Linked DNA regions of Homo sapiens: region 2 is linked to region 1. The links come from fine-mapping of genetic effects on gene expression. A gene starts in region 1. The other region holds a variant in brackets. All regions are shown on one strand. Distances are between the middles of the regions. Region 1 holds the start of KLHL26 (kelch like family member 26). Region 2 overlaps KLHL26 (kelch like family member 26).

What was found.
Region 2: its variant is fine-mapped to the expression of KLHL26 in cerebellum (GTEx, PIP above 0.99).

What each region holds. Positions count from the first base shown.
Region 1 is chr19:18,635,833-18,638,733 of GRCh38, forward strand. KLHL26 (kelch like family member 26) reads left to right here and starts at 1,196. Exons shown (of 3, transcript NM_018316.3): 1 at 1,196-1,305. The coding sequence starts at 1,223. RefSeq lists silencers at 341-530, 571-650, 661-820, 871-1,380 and enhancers at 867-1,161, 1,120-1,634, 1,635-2,149.
Region 2 is chr19:18,670,024-18,672,924 of GRCh38, forward strand. It overlaps KLHL26 (kelch like family member 26), which reads left to right. Exons shown (of 3, transcript NM_018316.3): 3 at 1-1,698. Among named protein-coding and RNA genes, the nearest start is that of CRTC1, 12 kb to the right of the region's middle. RefSeq lists an enhancer at 2,356-2,901. The variant C/T (reference allele first, on the strand shown) is at 1,364.

The DNA of each region.
Region 1 (2,901 bases):
AGAAACCAGAATTGGTGTATGAAGCAGGTGGTGGGAACCTAAGGCCAGATGATTGGGGTCTCAGGGTGGAGGCTCTGAAGAGGGTATGTCAGGGGAGGGTGGGGAACCATGAGGGGCTGGAAGTCTGAGGCCTGGGCATGGGTGAGTTTCGCCCCTGAGAGAGGCCTGGGAAGGAGGTAAGACTGGAGTCGGGGTGTGCAGGGTGGGGAGAGGGAGGGTGTGGTTCTCAGAGCTTAGAGACCCATTTCTCCATGCTCCATCTCACCCTCCCTCCCACCCTACCTATAACTCACTTCCCTGTGGCTCCAACGCCTCAAAGTATAACCACGCCCAGCCAACGCCCGGGGCACGCCTGCCAGCGCCCCAGGGCACTCACAGACACTCCTTAACACCTGCACGTGCCCCGCCCCTCCTCAGATCCGCCGCTCACTTAGCCCGGCCCCACCCCCATCAGATGAGGCTCCGCCCCCCCGGCCCCGCCAATCCCTCGCCCCCTCCACGCACACACCCCTGATCTTCCCCGCCCTCCTTCCAACCAGACTCCACCCCTCGCCCAGGCCCCGCCCTTCCTCAGACCAGGCCCTCTCTTCGCTTGACCACATCCATCCCCAGATTCCTCCTCTCTCCTGCCCAGACCCGCCCAACCTCAGACCCATCTTCTCCTTTCTACCTCCCCGACCACTCCCCCACCGCATTCCTAACCTCCACCTTGTCCCTTCTCACACCTGGCCCCGCCCTTTATCCTGCGCCCCGCCTCCTCCGCAGGCCGGACCCTTGTCCCTCCTCCTCTTGCCCTGGGCCTGCCCCTTCTTCAGACCCCGCCCCACTCCTCAGCCCAGGGACCAACCCCATCCTGCGCCTACTTGTCCTGCTTCGCCCCGTCCCCACCTATCCACAGACAATACGCCCTCTCAGCCCAGAACCGCTTCCCTTTCAGACTTGGTTCCGCCCCTCACGCCAGGGTCCCGCCCCAATCCGGCACCCCTAGCCCAGGCCCCGCCCTGGACCCACCTCTCTGCATAGCAGGCCCCTCCCTTTATCCCAGACCCGCCCCGGCCCTCCGTAGACCACGCCCCTCCGATTCCGGGCCCGCCCCAATCCTTGGTTTCTGGTCCCGGCCCCGCCCCTCCGCAGACCTGGCCCCGCCCCGCCCCCCGCGTCTCGGTTTCCCGGGCCTGCGCGCGCGGCTCCCGTCACTCGAACGCGCGACGGCGGGGGGAAGATGGCGGAGTCCGGCGGTAGCAGCGGTGGTGCTGGTGGCGGCGGCGCTTTCGGCGCGGGCCCGGGCCCCGAGCGCCCGAACAGGTGAGACCCGGCCCGCAGGATAGACCTGCACCTGTCTTGGAGCCCAGGAAACCTGTGGGCAGTCTTGGGCGTCCTGAGGGGTTGAGGGGAGGCCTGGCACGGCTCGAGGGTCTTTCGCTGAGAATTTGGACTTTACGGGGCCGTGGGGTACTGGAGGAGCCGAGGGCTACTGAGGGGGTGGCTGGAGGGGGGCTGGGTGCCCCAGGACCTCGAGGCGTCTGCAGGCGGCCCTAGGGACCTGAGAATCCTGGGGGTCTGAAGGGAAACCGAGGGGCTCTTGACTGTGGTGGGCCGTGGGGCAACTGGGGATGCCAAAGGGCCTGGGCAGCAGAGAGGGCCTGAGCAGGGGCCATGCCATGGCCAGTCTGAGGGTGGTGAGGTGTCTTGGGGGCTCTGAGGAAGGGGCTAAGGCCCAAGGCATCCTGGGAGGTGCTGAAGGGCCCCAAGGTGGCTAAAGGTGGTCCTGAGAGCGTGCTGAGGGGCGCTGGAAGGAGTAGAGACTGTGGGAGGCTCTGGGTGGGGGACTTAGGTGAATCTGGGAGTCTGAGATGGGGAGGCTGAGGGGGCCTGGGGTGGGTCTAGGGAACCTGAGGGGGGTGAGAGAACTCCAGGGGGTTTATAAAGAACATACAGAGGGTTCTTCTTTGGGGCTCCTCCCTTCCATCCCCATGGGGTCCAAATCCACATCCCCAACAGGCTAAAGGACTTACAGAAAGGTCTTGCCCTCAGACAAGGGGACAGAATTCACCCCTTTGGTCAGAGGGAGGCCCCCTTTCCCCATGGCCCAGTCCTGACATGGATTGCTTGAACGTCCAGGTTTGCATGACAATTAGTTATCATCAATAACTAATGATATGTGTGTGCATGCATTGTATTGGATTGTCAGAGGGAAAGAACACCTGCCTTAGGAGTGTGATCTCCTGCTCTTTTCCTATTGGGCAAAGCCAGACCCTCCCACCCCAGCTCCTCCTCTAGCCCAGCACCCAGGTCAGGCCAAGGAGGAAATTCAGGCTTTTTCTTGCTGGTGAGCTTCCAGGAGCCAGTAATTTCAGGCAACATGATAAATGATGAAGTTGTTTGATACTTACGTGCTGTGGAGTTTTGGACCTGTGGGCTGATTGTTGGAGGGAATGGCCTGATGGCCTGGCTGTGTGATTTGGTACTGAATGGAACACGCATGGGATGGGTGGGGAAGGGAGGAGGGATGGCTGGGCCAGGGCACAGAGGAGGCAAAGGCCCTGCCTGTTCCTGAGGATGCTGAGTGGCACCTTGAGACTTAGGTCTGTGGGCATTGAATCTGGTCTGCCAGAGGGGCCATGGGGAACCCAGGAGGTGTGTGTCCAGAGGGGTGACCAGCCTCCTGGGGTAGGTGTGGGGCAAGATTGTCCTGCAGTAGGGAGCCAGGAGATGTCAGAGGATTTTCAGAGATATTCAGGGAGTGGCCAGGGCTTGAAAATTGGGTATCAGTTGGCAAGTAAGGGACAGGGAAGAGGGACAGTGAACCCCAGGTCCCTGCCTTGGGCACTGGAGTGGGATAACCTGGGGCTAGGGCTTTTTTTATTTTTATTTTTTTGAAACCCCGTCTCGCTCTGTCAC
Region 2 (2,901 bases), 34 kb after region 1:
GTTGGCCAGGCAGTCCCCTTCCCGCAATTGGAGGGCGACGCTAACTTCAGAATCCCATAGTGGCGCTTGCCGCAGGTCTGGTGGGGTGTCTTTTTTCTCCTCCCTCCTTTCCACCCCTCCGCGCCCTGCCACTCCCTGGCCTGCCCTGTTTTTGGGTCAACATTGCTACGGAGCCAGCAGTGAGGCCTTTCCCTTCAAGGGCTCTGTGGTATCTCTGGCCACATTTGTTCTAATGTCTGAACCTCTAAATCTTTTCTTTTTGATTGGTTTTACTGTTTTTAAGAAGCCAGCACTGCTGTCTCATAGATGGGATTTGTACTCTTGGGGCAACTTAAAGTGTCTCTCTCGCTGCTAACAGACGATTGATGTCTTGTCTCTGTGACCCACTCACCATGTAAAGAATTAACCTCCTATCTTAGCAGACATCGTCTCCTAATATTTCCCTTTATTTAATAAAAATGTTATGGTGAAGAGATGGAGCCGGCCCAGCACTGAGCTTGTGCGGCTTGGGTCTGATTGGTCACAGATTCCTCGTGTGTCCTCCGCGTGTCTGGGGGCTCCTCTCCCCCGCCTCAACCTTTTCCAGCCTTTCAGAGGAGTCGGCAGTGGGCTGGGCTTTGGCTCAGGGGCGCAGAGGCAGCAGGAAGCGTGGCCAGGACTTTCACCCTGGCGTTTTTTGTTGTTGGTTTTTTTGTTTTTTTGAGACGGAGCCTCGCTCTGTCACCCAGGCTGGAGTGCAGTGGCGTGATCTCGGCTCACTGCAACCTCTGCCTCCTGGGTTCAAGCAATTCACCTGCCTCAGCCTCCCAAGTAGCCAGGATTACAGACGCAGACACACACCACCACACCCGGCTAATTTTTGTATTTTTAGTACAGACGGGGTTTCACCATGTTGGCCAGGCTGGCCTTGAACTCTTGACCTCAGGTGATCCACCTGCCTCTGCCTCCCAAAGTGCTGGGATTACAGGTGTGAGCCACCATGCCCGGACCAACCTTGGCACTTTGGAAGAGCCTTCAGCCCCCTATTCTCATCATGGCCGGCCAAACTATGAACTGGGCTGCCCAGAGCAGGCCACTTATCAGTTGCAGGTTAGCAGAGAAAGCCTGATGTTCCCGGACGGCCTTCCCAGAAGGGAGGCCCTGGGATATCACACACACATGGATCTCCATAAGTTGCTGTGCCTGCATGCCTGGCGCTCCTGTGTGGCAGCCATCGGGGCTGGGGTAACACTAGAGGCTGAGGGGGTGGGCAGTGCTAAAATAGGAACATGGTTGGGAACCTAAAAGAAGCCCACACTGTCAGGGGCATCGAGACAAAAGCCGAGTTCCCTGGGGACTTACCAGAACATTCCAGCCCCACCCC[C/T]GACCTGAGCTCCCCCAAAGAGAACCCTTCCCCACTGGAGGCATGGCCCCTTCAGGGGAGCAGTGAGAAGCTTTGCCAGCTGCAAGTCCCCTGGATCAGCTCACACCTCAGAACATCTTGTCCCCAGTGAGCTGGCAGGGGCGCCGGCCCAGGGCGGGGGGCGCTGCTGTATCTAACCGGATCGATTGTGCATAACCGTCTAGGCCGGTTCGTGGAATGTTCGTGGGGCCCCCTGCCCCTCCCTCAGCCTCCCCCCGCATCCCCCCAAGAAAGGAAAATTATTTTTCGTATTGTAAACTTTAAACATGAAAAAGCTGTTTTTAATTTAGCAGAAACTGGCTTGAATCTTCACTTTGTGAACGTTTGTGTCCTTCAGAGGCAGAATATGCCTGCGCACACTCGCACATGCTCATGCACACACCTGCACACGCATGCCGCAACACGCACATTCACATGGCCGTGCTCGTGCACGCCTGCACACGCATGCTTGCCCATACCCACGCATTGCAGCGCGTTCACACGCTCACCCGCACACAGTGAAACACAAGCTCACACATATGCACACACACACATATCTGTGCATGCACCCCTGGACCAGCGTAGCCCAATCTGCCTGGCGGCCCAAAGGGGTCTGGAGCCCGGCACCGCCCCGAGCCTGGGGGAAGCCTGTCTACTTCCAGATGCCCTGCCTACTCGCTGAGGCCTGGACGCCGGCTGCAGGAGCCTCCCTTGCACCTGGGCTCAGGCTGTGGGAAAACGCTGTCTCTCGGGACGGTCAGATGCAGGCCCGCAAGAGGGAGGCCAAGTGCGACTTCTGGGGCCTCTCAGCAAGTGAGGGCCAAGGGGGCCTCTGGGGAGCCGTGTGAGGTGGGAATCCGCCCCGGACCTGGCCAGCTTGGAAACCTGCCCCTGGCTCTGTCTCCGAGGAAGCAGCTCCAGCTCGTCCGTTCTCACGGGCCCTGGAGATTCACTTTGCACGGTGCAGCCTCGGACCCTGCTCTTCCTCGGGGCGCCTGACCGTGGATCTCAGCGGCCTGGCGCCTAACACAGAGCCTGGCACCGACGGAGCATAGCTCGAATGTTTGCTGCACAAAGGAGAGGTGCTGGGGCGGGAAGGTGAGGGCAGCCTTCTTCACACTAGTGGCCGTGGGCACCTTCTGTGTGCAAACCCCGGGGAAAGGAGGGCACCAAGCCGTGCTCCACCCCCAGCAAGGCCCCTGCTTTGTTCTCGTCTTCCTGTCGCTCTCATTCTGGTGGCCAGCCGGGCAGCCATTCCTCCCTCCTCACCATCAGATCCCTGATTTGGTGCCAGCAGCAACGTGCCCAGCCTCTGGGGTTAAGATTCAGCTGAGCCGTTCTTGGCAATGCCTTTTGCCGGGGTTGTTTGTAATCTGGGCGTGTTTCCCAGCTCTGGCCAGCAAGCTTGAAGGGGTCGGGTGTTTCTGGACAAGGGAGAGAGAGGCCTTGTTGCCCCCTTCCCTTCCTTACTGCTTCTTATGAGGACACAATGCCAGGGGCTTCTGCAGCCATCTTGTGGC